Regions from separate parts of the Homo sapiens genome. Here regions 1 and 2 are each linked to region 3. Evidence: fine-mapped QTL for protein levels in blood plasma. A gene starts in region 3. Each other region holds a variant in brackets. All regions are shown on one strand. Distances are between the middles of the regions.

Region 1 (5,237 bases), 28 kb before region 3:
AAACTCCGTATGTCCCCTTCTTTAAATTGCTAGCCTATCAGTTATTTCAATCTCAAGGGTAAGCAAACAAACCTAAATCACCATTTAAAGTTTTGCCACCCATCAACCAATAATCATTTTTTCCTAGTTGCTGAGTTAATTTTTTACATATATTGCACCAATCTAGATAAGCTGGTTAGGTTATCGACAATATAAAAATGTTTCTTTCCTCCTTTGGAGTCTGTAAATTTTGTCCTTGATATGTATAATTTACATGTAACAGTATGCAATAAGTTTATGTGTGTTGTTATGAAATTAATTGCCATATACTTCTTTATTGATAAAATTAATGAAAAGATGTCAGAATTAGGATAGAAGGAGAACATTCACAAGAGGTAGTTCTGAACATCTATGGAAAAACCCAAATTATTGAATCAAAAAAGCATATAATCTACCCGTAAAGGCTGAGTGGCTGGCTTGAATCACTTATCAGCTTAATGATTCACTCCTACTGAGCGTTCTCGAAGTCCTCCTAACTTAAATGGACGTAATTAATTGAAAATATGTATGTCAAGTCTGCAAATGTCAAAGCCTACTGTGTTTTTAAAACAGCATGGAAAGTAATGTTAAAAAAAGAAAATACTGTAAATTGAGTCTCCAGAATATATATTTTGGCATATATTTGTCTATCTAGAGACATCTGCTAACTATATTTTTATATTTGGTCTATCATTTGAATCCCATTAGGAAACTGACTCTGTGATGAACATAAGAAACCTTCACTATTCTGAGACCAGTTTTCTAGCATCGTTTAGTTTTTAGAACAGCCTGGATTTGAAACTAGGTTAGGGGATGATTGGGTCTTCCTTGGTGAAGAAGTGGCTGTGAACACTCACGTGAAATGCTACACTAACAAAGAAAAGACATCAACTCGCAGTGATTGGTTTGCTATGTGGAAAAAAACATTTTATAGGTGGGTAATATTTATGAAGTGCCAACATTTCATGTAAATTAGAAGAACTATGGGACAGAAAAAAAGCAACAGTAAGAAGGAAGAAAAGATGATAGTCGAACTCACTGATAGTAGGCATGGTAGAAGTAGCACCAAGTTTCTAAAACAATCTACTTTCTCTCCCTTAATGCCTACTGATTTTCCAATTGCACAGCCTTATCAACCCCTTTGATTCCAAGGATAATGTGGGCTCTGTGGCAGGCTCCACCTAATGAATGGCCTTTCTTTGTGCTCCCTGAACCCATTTCTTTAAAGTCAGGTAAATCGTTCCTTTGCCCACATTAATATACATGGTAGTTTTCATTCAGATGCCTTAGAAGCCAGTCAGCTGGATAAAGTACATGGTTTTGATCTCAGGATACTATTAGTAATTATTTCTGTATATGGAATTGTTTTCAAAATCAAACATTGGTGATGCTTGCAGATGACTTCATGAATTACACGTTAAGTTTTATGTCATGCTGACTTAGAAGAACAAGGGGGAAAGAAAGGAGTAGGAACAGGTGAAGAAGACGGTTTTTAAAATAACAGGAAAACCACTAAGGAAAACACCATCATCACCTTCAATTTGCAAAGCAGGAGAGTGAAATTTGTTTCTCTCCTTCACACTGCTGGAAATACTCCAGTTCCTTTATAAATGATCAAATCTTAAATGGACTCAAATGTTTTTTTAAAAAAGCAAAATATAGAAAAGATGACTATTTTTACAACAGCAGTAGTACTCCCTTATCTGCAGGGGATACGTTCTAAGACCCCTAGTGGATGCCTGAAACTACAGATAATACCAAATTCTATATATTGATACTATGCTTTTTCAGTCTGATAACCGAAACAGCTACGAAGTGAGTAACGAGCAGATAAAGAAAATAAAATTTACCAAACTGAAAGACATGATATAGATTCAAAAGAACCACTGAGTACCCACTGCAGTAAACCAAAAGAAGACCACGACAGTGTATGTCACTGTAAAATTTCAGAACGCTAGGGGGAAAAATCTTTTGGGTGTAGGAAGGAAAAAAACCATCTATAGTAGTTCTCTGTTTTTTCCTATAATATACATACCTATGACAAAGTTAATTTATAAATTAGACACAGTAAGAGATTAACAACAACTAATAATAAAAGATTATGATTATATAACAATATGTCAGCATTACAGCTCTTGTGCTTTGGGACCATTATTAAATCAAATAAGCATGATTCGAACACGAGCACTATGAAACTCCAACACTGGATCTGATAACTCAGACTTCTACTAAGTGTCTTGGGGCAGGGAGGGCTTTCAGCGTGGATACGCTAGACAGAGGGGTGACCCACCTCCTGGGCAGAAAGAATCCAATGGTGCGAATCTCTGCTCAGAATGACATGCAATTTAAAACTTATGAATTCGGCAGGGTGCGGTGGCTCACGCCCAACACTTTGGGAGGCCGGGGTAGGTGGATCACATGAGGCCAGGAGTTCGAGACCTGCCTGGGCAACATGGCAAAACCCCATCTCTACCAAAAATGCAAAAATTAGCCCATGTACCCCAGAAATATATAAAATATTTTGTATCAGTAAAAAAAGAAGCAACTATATACAATCAAAAACGGAATGAATTTGCTGATAAAGTAACATGAATGTATTCAGTCAGAGGGTAGAATTAGGTTTCTGGATTATTGTAAAGGAAATTTCTGTATTGGGAGAGGCTTAGACTCAATGAATTAATGAAAGCCATAGTGATTGAAAAGTAGTACTATACAGAAGCATTACAGCAATAACGGTGGCTCTTTTGTGTGATATGGTCAGGTGAAGAACTAGTTGGTTATTAGGATGCCAAATAGTCTCCATATATATACATGCTCTCTCTTTCTTTGTGTGAATTTGTGGCCTTCTATTTATAACTCATCCATAATTCAGTTTGCAAATGATCTTTGTAAAAGTAATAATTTATTTCTATGACATTTACACTTTACTAATGTACACAATGAACAAATCCTCAAAACGACTTCATTGCTGAAGAATTCTAATGAGAATGATTACTTAATAATACTAATATTATAAATAAAGACTAACATTACCATACATATTATATTGATAATTAATGTCTATCAGTGAGATATCATCAACTCCATTACAACTATGCTCATAAGACATCAAACCTGTTAAACCAC[C/A]AGCCAGACTGATCTTCTTCTGCGCAGTTCCCTTCATAGTTGTCATGATCTCTGTCCCACGTGCTGAATTTCATTCTTTGGTGACTAGCCCACCACTGCACCTCAGGATGAAAATTCCCCGCAAGGGAATCTCCAGCTGTTCCAGAATATTCCCCAATATTCAACTCGTAGAAATTCTAAAGAAAAAGGGCATTTCTGCTGTCAGTGGAGTTCCTCTATGACCATTTTAAAATTAAGTTTATTTCATAAACAAAAGAACAGGTTCTATTGTATATTTTTATTTCCACTGACTCCAGGGTTATATTGCACATTTTAAGCATTTATTCACGGTTTTACTTCTTAGAAAATTGTAGTACCTTTTCATCTCCAACTTTGAAATTCTTATATTGTGCATAACGGCTATTTTTTTCAAAATCTGCAAGGTCGATTTTTAAAGTGTAGTCTTCTAAAAAAGAAACAAGCAATTATAATTTTTAAAAATGTGTGACATGACACGGACTACTGCGGTTTAAAAATAATTCACAGCTCTATTTTAATTTTACCATTTCCCTTGGCCAAGAATCAGTTTTCAAAGATTAAACAGTGACTCCTTTGTATATATAACATGAACATTTTATCGTGTAATTTATTTGAAAAAAAATGATGGATACAATATTAAATTTAAAAAATGTCTACTAGATCTCTTAGAGGTAAAACCTAGTGCAATTCACTGAATAATGAACAACAGAAAAAATAAGTGATTACTTAAAGCAATCTAACAATGAAAGGGTCGACGTTTTACCTTTAATAGTTTGACCTCTTTTTCTTGATTTCAGTAAGAATGTTGATCTTGAATATAAATGGTGGCTATTAATGACATTGTGTAATCTCTAGTAGCTGAGCCACTAGGTTTGTAAAATGTAGTTGCCATTGCCTGCATATGCCTGAACTTGGTTATTTTCCTGATAGCATAAAAGATCAGCCAGGAAACCCTTTAAGAATAATTTGAGGAAGAAATATGAATCCTAATTGTTATCCGAAAACCTTCGTTTGATACTGGCTCATAAGATCAAGAGACTCTTAGCATCAAAGTATGTAGAGTGGATGTCATTGGAAGAGAATTTCAGAGGCAATAAGGAAACATTCTGGAGAAATGCTGTACCACCAACATTCTCAATGGCAGAGATGATGATAATTACTGGAAAATATACTAACATCAATGACTCTGAGTAAAAAGGTATTTCTGAAGAACTGATATCTACATGTGAAAGCATTTTAAGAATGCAATGGGGCCGGGGCGGTGGCTCACGCCTGTAATCCCAGCACTTTGGGAGGCCGAGGCGGGCGGATCACGAGGTCAGGAGATAGAGACCATCCTGGCTAACACTGTGAAACCCCGTCTCTACTAAAAAATACAAAAAATTAGCCGGGCATGGTGGCGGGCACCTGTAGTCCCAGCTACTTGGGAGGCTGAGGCAGGAGAATGGCGTGAACCCAGAAGGCAGAGCTTGCAGTGAGCCGAGATTGCTCCACTGCACTCCAGCCTGGGCGACAGAGCGAGACTCCGTCGCAAAAAACAACAAAAAAACAAAAAAAAGAATACAATGTATTGGGTACATATTATCTTTTATATATGCTAAAGAATGATATATGATGACAAAAAATCTCTAAACATTAAAGATATACTTTAATGACTGTAAAAATTCTAGGCGATATAAGAGCATTATGTTTTTAAAATGATTAAAATAATTGCTACCTTCAAGTAATCTTTTTTTTCCCATTGTTTGGAAATAACAAAGACTATTCCTTTTTCAGAAACAGAACTCTTGTCAGGGGCACCAAATGTTATAAATCAAATTATTAGATCACATGTGTTCTATCCTCCTACTTTGATAAATAAGATATAACAATGACCTGTAAGGTCGGGTTAGAATTTAGAGCCTCACTTTCCTTGGAGTTTCAAGCCAGACCATGGAGGCACTGGGAAAGAGAGTCCCTGAATAGTCCTATCACCTAGGCCCCATCTCTGGTTGGCCTCTTCTCTCTTTCCATCCCCATCTCCATCACTTATAGCAAGGGGCTTTGGATCCACTTGTGGACATCCCAGGCTGCAT
Region 2 (5,237 bases), 22 kb before region 3:
ACGTTTTTTCTCCAACGAGATTAGCCAGCCTGAGTACCAAGTTGATATATGAAAAGGAACAGGTTTGTTGGCAAAGTTCCTCTGGGAAAATATGTACATCATAATAACTTAAAAAATAATACGTTTGAATTTCATATATTTAGAAAGAGCCAAGGGTTACTGCTCTGGGGTTTTCATAGTTTCAATAAGAAACCAGATAAATATCAATGTGCAAATGAAACAGAAGTTGGTATGGCAAATTTTATATATCTGGCATAAAACACTTAAAACTAGAATAATAGATATGTTGAAGGAAAGGAAGCGTTATGTAAATTTAGAGAGCACTGATCATAAGAAGGACATACAAAGAAAGTATAAGGTTTCTAGGATTACTCATCCTGTCTAATGTTTATCATTCTAGTGTCTCAAAGAACTTTATAACCATAAGCCTACTACTATAAATATAGAAACACCAATAGCTTTCCAGAACTTGGATGGAACAAAGGAACTTTTGTTTTATCTTAATTACTTTATTATTATTATTATTTGAGACAGAGTCTTGCTCTGTCACCCAGGCTGGAGTGGATTGGCGCAATCTTGGCTCACTGCAACCTCCGCCTCTTGGGTTCAAGCAATTCTCCTGCCTCAGCCTCCCAAGTGGCTGGGATTACAGTGCTGTGCCACCATGCCTGGCTAATTTTTGTATTTTTAGTAGAGATGGGGTTTCACCATGTTGGCCAGGCTGGTCTCGAAATCCTGGCCCCAAGGGGTCCACCCACCTCAGCATCCCAAAGTGCTGGGATTACAGGCATGAGCCACCATGCCCAGCTGTTTATTTTTAATGCAATTGCAGTGTAACTTAGCATGCTTTTTTGGGCATTACAGTTGCCTTTTATGAAGGATTCAGGATCAGACTTGAGTGGGACTGATGATAATCTCAGACTACAACAGAGGTAGGGAAGACAATGGATTGGAGCAAAAGAACATGGGAGATAGAAGCTGGGAAAAGTCGTTATCAAAACAATGATATTTTAGACAAATATTAAACTCTAAAGATAAGAATTTAAAAGTATATAGGGAGACATCCAGATGTCTGCTATTTACTTTGAAATATATATACAGAAAAGATGGATTGATGGACGGATTGAGTAATGGGCAAACGGATAGATACGTAACAAAAACAAGCAAAGTAAAATGTTAATGTAGGATACAGGTGGTAGGTTGAAACTTCTTTCAAATTGGTTGCAGCTTTGAAAAAATTTCAGCATTAAAGATGAGATGTATGTGGAAACATGGACATTTCATATATTATAGTGTTTTATTGGAAAAATAGCACCAATTGCCCAATTGTTCACCTCTCTCTCATAATATGTCTTCATAGCTCCTCCTATTGTTTACTTCCTTTTAAAAAAAAGTCTGAGCTGCTCCTGTGATTTGCTTTCACCAATAGAAGAAAAATGACTCCATGCCAATTCTGGGCCTAGATCTCAAGAGACTTATATACATCCACTCTTTTTTGTGGAACCCTGCCTGTGCTACAAAAACAAGTCCAGGCTAGCTAGCTGGAAGATGAGAGACCCTATGGAGCCAGGTTGAATCCTTCCATCCCAGAGCAGCAACTTCAGTGAGGAAGTTGATGGCAGACTCATAAGCAAGCCCAGCCATGATCAGCAGAGCCCAGCCCTGATCAGCAAAATCACCCAGCCAACCTGCAGATTTGTGAGAAGTAATAAATGGTTGTTGATTTTAAGCCACTAAGCTTTGGAAGAGGATTGTTACACGTTATTATTGTGACATTAGGTAACTGATACAGCATATATAATCTCCAGGAACTCAAGGCATCAAAAAGGAATAATTATGACATTATATATCCTTTTCAGAAGTAGAATATATATATATTCTATATATATCTATAGATACATATAGCGACTTATATTCTATATATCTATATATAGCTACATATATACTATGTATAGAATGTATATATATCTATAAATATATTTAGATATTTCTCATAAATATATATGTGAAAACAATTCCCCGCAACCCAATTCTAGCTTTTTTTTCTGTTTCTAATTTTAGGCAGCCACATTTTACATTTGGGATTATTGCCCAAAAGTTATCACTGCCATCTGCAAATCATAGCAATTATTGAATTAGTTCCATTGCCTATAATTTGGTTAAAAAAAAATTTTAGTGTTGTTTTTATTATATTTCAAATAAATCTGACATCATTCAAACCTTACCTTGAGTGGTCAAGAAGTGAAGATTTTTATTGCCCAGCCAATATTCACCATGTTTTTGGACAAAATTTCCAAAGCCATTTTCATAGTCTTTCCATCCTCTAAAAAAGGTAAAGTGGAAGCCGATTAGAGCAAACTCCATTTGTGGTACCAAAGCGACCACCACCCACCCCCTGCTACCACCACCTCCAATATTTTCTTGATTAGTTAATTCATTTTCAGTATTCTTCTTTAGAGAGATTGAAATTCTGTCTAATTAATAGGCTTCAGGATATGATCAAAATATTTGACTTATAAATCTCACATTTGCTGCTACATATAAAGTCTTACATCATAATTAGCACACCTGTTAAAGTTTTCACTGCCATCAGATCGTCTCTGAATTACAGTCCATCCTCCTCCATCGGACA[T/C]GTCACAATAAACAGAAAATTCTGCTGGGCTCTGGAGAGGTTTGATTTTGTAAAATCCACTGAGCTTATACCCATCATTGAAAATCTCTGAACAATCTGTTTTTAAAACAAGGTAATGTAACATTCATTATGTGTCTTTTTCTCCCCCCGCCTTAGGGAGCCTCTGAATGAGACTACTCAGTATCACTGGAGACAGATAACACATGGTATAGAAATCAGCGTTTTAAAATTGCATCTTGTACATCTTCCAGTGGATATTAGGAAAGTTTTATTTCCTTTGCTAAAATTTGCCACCTGAATCCTTGATATAATCATCGAGGAAAAAAGGGGAGTGAAATAAGAATCTAGTTTTTTGTTTCTTTCTTCTTTTTTCTTTTACATTTTTTTTAAGAAATGGGGGCGTGTCACTATATTGCCCAGGCTGGTCTCGAACTCCTGGCTTCAAACAATCCTATCCTCCCACCACAGACTCCCAAAGGGCTGGGATTACAGGTGTGAGCTTAGTTTCTAATTTCTGAGTTTTGTAGAAAACAATCTTAAAAAAAACAAGTTATGAGTAGTCTGTTAATAACAGTATATTTAGGTGGAACTTACAGTTTTATCAGACGGAATAGTAAAATTTATCTCACCCATGAAGCTAAAATGAAAGCAGAAATGTTAACACCAAAGTTACTACAGGTTATCCTGACTTAGAGCATGATAAATCATTCTGGACATCTGAAAATGAACCCAAAATAGTAATCTTGTAAAAATCTTTATTATTATACTTTAAGTTCTAGGGTACATGTGCACAACATGCAGGTTTGTTACATATGTATATGTGTGCCATGTTGGTGTGCTGCACCCATAATCTTGTCAAAATCTTATAATCTCTTAGCCTTATTAGATTTTTTACTAACCCACTGAAGTTTCTAAAAGTCCATACATTCTTAGATGTTTTTGCTAAAAACTGCAAGCTTCTGCTATTCTTTTCATCCCTTAATTCTTTTTTGCTGTGGTATTTCTTTGAACACTGAAGCAAATGTAGCTACCCCTTTGTCACCAAAAAGTGATATCTCTTTCTTTCTTTCTTTCTTTCTTTCTTTCTTTCTTTCTTTCTTTCTTTCTTTCTCTTTCTTTCTTTCTTTCTTTCTTTCTTTCTTTCTTTCTTTCTTTCTTTCTTTCTTTCTTTCTTTCTTTCTTTCTTTCTTTTCCTTTGAGACAGAGTCTTGCTCTTTCGCCCAGGCTGGAGTGCAATGGTGCTATTTCGGCTCACTACAACCTCCGCCTCCCGGGTTCAAGCGATTCTCCTGCCTCAGCCTCCTGAGTAGCTGGGATCACAGCCACGCACCTACACACCTGGCTAATTTTTTTGTATTTTTAGTACAGACTGGATTTTGCCATGTTGGCCAGACTGGTCTCAAACTCCTGAGGTCAGGCCATCCGCCCGCCTCGGCCTCCAAAGTGAAAGGATGACAGGTGTGAGCCACCACACCCTGCCAAATGGTGATGTCTGTTCCTTAAGCCACTTGAGGGTGATGTAAATTAATACCCATTGGGTCTCACCTAGGTTGATCTGTACAGACTTAGAGAACGTGGCAAATGGGGACCTCTCTATTGTTCAGATGCATAGAAAGCTAGGTTTTAGGATGATTGAAGTAGTGGTCACTATAAACAATCTCAAGAAGAGCCGTCTACAAACATTTGAATAAAAATACTATAACATCATCAACTTTCACTTTTACCCTTATCGCTTTGTTAATTTCCTTAACAAAAAATTTTTTTCTTATTGGATAATTCCATTCTTGTAGCATATTTTAAAGATGTTTAAAGATTTAAAAACAAATGTTCATTGTTTTGATACTAGATTGCCAAATTTACAACTCTCTTGTTTTGTTACAGATAAAATATATTGCACATTAAGTAGGTGAATAGGCCATAGACATCAGAAGAGAAAAGAAAAGAAAGAACCTTAGTCATTTTATAAAGCCTTCACATGGTTGGGACCAACCATATACTCCTGCTTTGGTGAGATGTTTACCTTTGTAATGATTTAGGCTTTATTCATATATTTATTTTCAAGATTCAGAAGCACATGCGTTCATATACATGCTAAATTATAAAAAGGATCCTGTTTTGGCAATTAAACAAGAAGCAAAACAATGAGAAAATGATTATCTAAAATTAGTTCAATGTTGTTATAAAGTTTACATCTTGTAGTCAAGTATATAGTACAACACTTTTATTAAAGTAAGCAGATTTTAGCCCTATTTGGAAAGAAGCTTTTTGCTTACATTAAATTTCCTACCAAAGAGCTGAATACTAAAGACTCACAAGGATCAAACTATTTTCCAGGCAAATATGGAAGTGATTAGCTATAACATTTGCCTCTGGAAAACTTAGTGAATATAGAGGTTTCAGCCAAAATTTTCTACTTGTTATTATTTTATGCTAACTGCGAGTTTGTTATTTCTTTGGTCTTGTTTTTGAAATTTTCCTTCTCCCCAGAAGAAAATGCCAAACACAACTTAAGAAAAGCTTTTAACTGAAATAAACAGTAACACAACAACAAAACCCCCAACAAATAAATAAACATTAAAAAAGCAAAAAAGCACCAGTAGTTCAA
Region 3 (5,237 bases):
ACTGTATATATACGTATATGTATGAACATAACATTATTATACATAATATGTATATATTATAGATTATATTATATATACATTATATAAGGTATATAAATATTGCTTAGCATTAGATTTAGTAAAAAATAAAGGGCTAATGAAATTTTTTTGACAGGCCTCTGTCTCTTGATGTCCTGAAATGTTTATCTCACTACCATTAAGATAATCCAATAATCAAAAAGGCACCCCCTAGTCTGGTAGCATATAAACAATAAAGCATTTCAAAATGTAATTATTTACATTTAGAAAGTCATTATATTACTTTGATTAGCTTTAGAATAATTCCTGAGAATATCTTAAGTTCTCTAAAATTTTCCATTTTCCTCCTTTGCAATTCTAACCAACATTCTCTGTAATATTGAAGAAATGCTAAGCATTAAGAAACTTGCTTTGAAATTCTGGTCTCCATCATTCATTATAGTAAACCATTATTTCTTCTGCACATCTGGCTTACAGTAAAGTTGTATCAAATTATTCTGTTCATTTATTGCACAATTAGTTGTATTTCTTTTATAATATTTTTGCCTTAGGCAGTATCAAAACTTTTAATTATTATAAAATTAAAATTGTTATCAAATGGCTGTTCTTTGGTGGACTATATTATTTTACATAATTTTAATGCTATAAATTCTAATTCCTTCCCCACTATATTTAAAAAAAATTTAATTAATTACGCTGCATTAAATTTAAAGATGAAGACATTAAATTTGTAAATGAAAAGTTCTAAAAATAATATATAATTTTTAAAAACAATTACAAAACAGAAGTACATTAGTAGCATGCAAACATTTCAAAACTGGTATGTTTTAAGCAAGCATTGTAAAAGGATATATAAAAGAAATAAAAAGGAAGGAAAAAGTTATTGAACGAAGTATGTTTAATAAGTTAGCATTCACAAACGCTATAGGACTATAATGCTTAGGACTATAACCTAAGTCAGTGAGTTAAAAATGTACCCATAAACACAAGCTTAGAGACTCCTTTTAAGCTATTTCCTTCCAAATTTTTTCCTCTTTCTGAAAATGGAATATAACTGTGCTTTTGTATTTTTCTTAAGAATCCATACTCACTGAAAGCCTTACAAAGCTAAATATAGTTGATCCCTCAAGAAATGCAATAAAGAAAAATGTTTCTGAAGTTTTTTGACTTCTGAAGTGAAAATTGTCATATAGTCCATTTTATTTTTAATTTTTTATACTGAAACTGTAAACCTATCATTTACGTCAAACTCCCATGCAATTCATTCAAAATGTAAAGGAAATTATACAAAGTGAGACTCCATCTCAAAAAACCAACAAACAAACGACAACAACAAAAAACGCCTAGAGCTTAAAAAAGAAATTTTCTTATTCCAATGTTTGATTCTGGCTCTTGCATAAATGGAAGTATGTTTTGAAAATGCTCTGGGTGATGCACCTATATATCATATAATTTTACCTGCGCACACTGTATATATATGTATATGTATGTACGTAACATTATTATACATAATTATGTATATATTATAGATTATATATACATTATATAAGGTATATAAATATTGCTTAGCATTAGATTTAGTAAAAAATAAAGGGCTAATGAAATTTTTTTGACAGGCCTCTGTCTCTTGATGTCCTGAAATGTTCATCTCATTACCATTAAGATAATCCAATAATCAAAAAGGCACCCCCTAGTCTGGTAGCATATAAACAATAAAGCATTTCAAAATGTAATTATACATATTTAGAAAGTCATTATATTACTTTGATTAGCTTTAGAATAATTCCTGAGAATATCTTAAGTTCTCTAAAATTTTCCATTTTCCTCATTTGTAATTCTAACATACCTTATTTGTATATCTGTATATTTGTATATCTGTATATCTGTAACAAAAGATACATAATTCTAAATCTCTTCTCCAAGTAGCAGAAGCAGACTCCTTGCTAGTCAACCTGACTTCTTGCAAAAGCTAATGGTTGTTACCTGAGTTTTGGTTACTATCATACCTGTGAAATAAATTAGCATTATTACAAGCATGTCAAAAATGCAGAGACATTAAATAACTTGCCTAAAGTCAGAAGTGAGTCAGAGACCCAGCTCAGGTTCCATCCAGACACTCTGCTTCCCAGGATCCTGTAACTGCATTGGGAATTTGTAATTATTTCTCCATTATTTGATTAGAAATAGGGACAATGTTGATTCTGGCTTCAATCCAGAAACAAACATGTGGACACAGGTTTAACTGAAAGAAAGCTAAAAGAGAAGATTCAAGGACAAATCCCAATACTCTGATATTTTTCTTTTTTCCCCACTTGTATGACTTTTTGTGAAAGATCCAATAATATATCTTTATAAAGATATATATATTTTACAACTTATTATTATGTTCATTCAGAGAATTTTTGTACTGTAACTTCAATAATGTTCCATTGAAGATTAAGTAAAAACGAAGTCCAGCTGAAACTTTGCTTTGTATTAAGGGTAATAACATTTTACCCACAAAAATATGAATTAATATGTCATCTCAACTAAAATATGGAGATAAGCCAAATTTTTCCTAGTTATAAAAAACAAGGCAGGTTAATAATTGCCAAGGTGAAATGGTCAGTTTATTTGCTCTCTAAGAAAAACAAAAGTATTCCCTGAGGTGCAAAATTGTGAAATTTAACTGGAAGCATCGATTATACTCTGGACAAGTTGTTCCTTTTGTTTTAAAATCCTCTAGAAGATTTTCTAATGTGTAATAGGCACTTGTTAGCTCCATTAATCGTATTGTGTAACAGTTTCTTACTGGAAATCTGGGTTCATCATTTCTTCTTTCCTTCTGATGTAACTCAAGCAGTTGTTTGCCATTTGTCCTGTGGTCCCTATTTATTCACTCAGATTCCAGTAAAATACCAAAGTTTTGTTTTCTTTCTGTTCTTTGTTATCTACTGGACTTGAGCACTGACGATGTTTGGTCTTCCCATTAAACATCTTCCTGTCCTTCACGTGGACATTTTGAAGATTATTAAGGGAAAGGTAATCCTGTTGATTTACTGGAAAAAAGAAGGAAAAAAAAAGCCAGTTAGACTGAAGTGATTTGCACACACACAGAAGAAGTGGAAATTATACATTCATAATTGTAGAGAATTCAAGCTGCTAATGTTAAATTTCAAAAGCAAAAATATGGGATTATTCGGCTAATTCAATAATGATCTCTGTGGTAAAATGACATATTTTGAAATACAAACTTATCTTTCCTTCTTGTATGCCTTTAGCTTTGTCCCCATTCAAGCAATAATTTAGCCTTGTGTTCATTTCCTCACTGGAGGGACATAACATTAACAGCAGCTAACATGTGGTATACTTATCATGTGCTAAACATGGTAATTTTATCAACTCACTCAGCCACACAGCCCTATAAGTAGGTACTGTTAATGATCTCCATTTCACAAATGACGAAACTGAGACACAGAGGTTTAAGTGACTTGCACGAGGTCACACAGCTAACAAGAGGTATAGCTGGGCTCAAAGGCAATCCTGCTCAGAATCTGTCCTCTTTTCTACTAAAGGTAGACTATGCTGTCTTTCGGAAACTTGGCTAGCATCATTACCTCAGGAGAAACTTGCAAAAGTTAATCAGGCAGTAAGGACTACTCTAGGGCCAATACTTTGTGGAGGAATTCCAAAAGCCAAATTTTCTTGGAGTAACATTATTCCATGGATGTACTGCCATAACATGGTGGAAGAACTATCATCAGGAAAGGTCAAAATTATGGCCAGGTGCGGTGGCTCACGCCTGTAATCCCAACGCTTTGGGAGGCTGAGGCAGGTGGATCACCTGAGGTCAGGAGTTCGAGACCAGCCTGGCCAAAATGGCAAAACCCCATGTATTTTTAGTTTCTACTAAAACTACAAAAATTATCCAGGTGTGGTGGTGGGCGTCTGTGGTACCAGCTACACAGGAGGCTGAGGAGGAGAATTACTTGAACCCAGGAGGCAGAGATTGCAGTGAGCCGAGATCGCGCCACTGCACTGCAGCCTGGGTGACAGAGCAAGACCCTGTCAAAAAAAAAGAAAAAGAAAAAAAGCAAGAAAGAAGAGTTGTGACCTTGCACAACTGCACCAAAGCTATGAAATGAGAATGAGACCTGAGATCACTGGCTGAAAAAAGTACAAGAAAAGCATGATATAATAGGACAACAAGTACAGTCCCACCAAGATCAGGCTGATTAGGCTCTCAAACACATTAAACGGACACTGTCAATTCTTTTTTCCTTTTCCTTTTGGAAGACCTTTTTCAGAGAACTCTTCAATTAATACATCAGTTACAGCACAATTTTCATCCAAACCCTCTGGACCCTGTATTGTGCCTGCCAGATTGAACACCTGTCCATTATTTGATACTTGACCCAGTCACCGTGGGAAGGTTTAATTCCAGATCTTGCCGCCTCCAGTCCACTCAAGCTTGCAGCGAGGAACATGTCTACTTAAGGCTGCATGAGGAACTAGACTCAGACAAATGATCTTATATCCTTGACTGTATTCTACCAGCATAAATTTCTGATGGTTATATTTTCCAAACTTGACTCCCAGTTCAGGAGGCACCCTTTTATGGGACTTATAAAACTCCATGCTCTGATTACAATGATAACATTTTAAACTTCAAATGTGCCCTTTATTAAAATATTTAGAACGGAGCGTATTGTAGATATCAAGGAAAGGGGTTGTTAAGAACAGTCTTCGTTCCACACAACTAGCAGAGCTTCCTCAGGTGGAGGTAATCAAATTCCTTCCTGAAATGCTGGTTTCAATGTCATCTCAGGCAGAGTCCTGAAAAACTAGAAAGTTTATTTGCACATAACGTAGGTCTCAGAAATTTCAATGGAGAAGCATTTTAAAATTAATAAAACTAAAACAGTTTTACTAGTGAGTTATCCTAAGTATTCCCATTATTGATGTAACTAGCAGAAAGTTTACATTAATAGATGATCAATAAATAGTTCCACCTTCACACACACTTTCTGGGAAAGATTCTGACAATATGAACTAGAAAAATAAGGGTAAAGGTGGATAAAGAAAAAGAGGAAGAAAAGAAAAATTGAGGTGCTTTGTAATGTGTCAACTTGGGTAGGCCGAACTACAGTTCCCAGAATTCCTTTTGCCTTATGTTTTCCATTAGGAGCAGTTGGCAGGCAGAAAGGAAGTGGCAGCCATCTTTGCAGCTCTCCCATGCT

Alleles and levels. Alleles are on the strand shown, and positions count from the first base shown. The strength of an association depends on the size of the effect and on how common the allele is.
With allele C in place of A in region 1, the plasma level of the protein whose gene starts at base 2,164 in region 3 is higher (strong association).
As copies of T replace C in region 2, the plasma level of the protein whose gene starts at base 2,164 in region 3 goes up (weak association).

What was found. PIP is the posterior inclusion probability: the model's chance that the variant is causal. The UK Biobank Pharma Proteomics Project read protein levels with antibody pairs (Olink). The fine-mapping took linkage between variants from a reference panel, not from the people measured, so its PIPs are less certain.
Region 1: its variant is fine-mapped to the plasma level of the FGL1 protein (UK Biobank, PIP above 0.99). The variant lies in the coding sequence of FGL1. If it changes the protein, the assay may bind it differently, which can mimic a change of level.
Region 2: its variant is fine-mapped to the plasma level of the FGL1 protein (UK Biobank, PIP 0.91). The variant lies in the coding sequence of FGL1. If it changes the protein, the assay may bind it differently, which can mimic a change of level.

The regions. Positions count from the first base shown.
Region 1 is chr8:17,865,416-17,870,652 of GRCh38, forward strand. It overlaps FGL1 (fibrinogen like 1), which reads right to left. Exons shown (of 8, transcript NM_004467.4): 6 at 3,501-3,589; 7 at 3,133-3,320. Among named protein-coding and RNA genes, the nearest start is that of FGL1, 27 kb to the right of the region's middle. The variant C/A (reference allele first, on the strand shown) is at 3,145.
Region 2 is chr8:17,871,794-17,877,030 of GRCh38, forward strand. FGL1 (fibrinogen like 1) reads right to left here. Exons shown (of 8, transcript NM_004467.4): 4 at 2,569-2,728; 5 at 2,226-2,323. Among named protein-coding and RNA genes, the nearest start is that of FGL1, 21 kb to the right of the region's middle. The variant T/C (reference allele first, on the strand shown) is at 2,633.
Region 3 is chr8:17,893,361-17,898,597 of GRCh38, forward strand. It overlaps FGL1 (fibrinogen like 1), which reads right to left and starts at 2,164. Exons shown (of 8, transcript NM_004467.4): 1 at 2,087-2,164.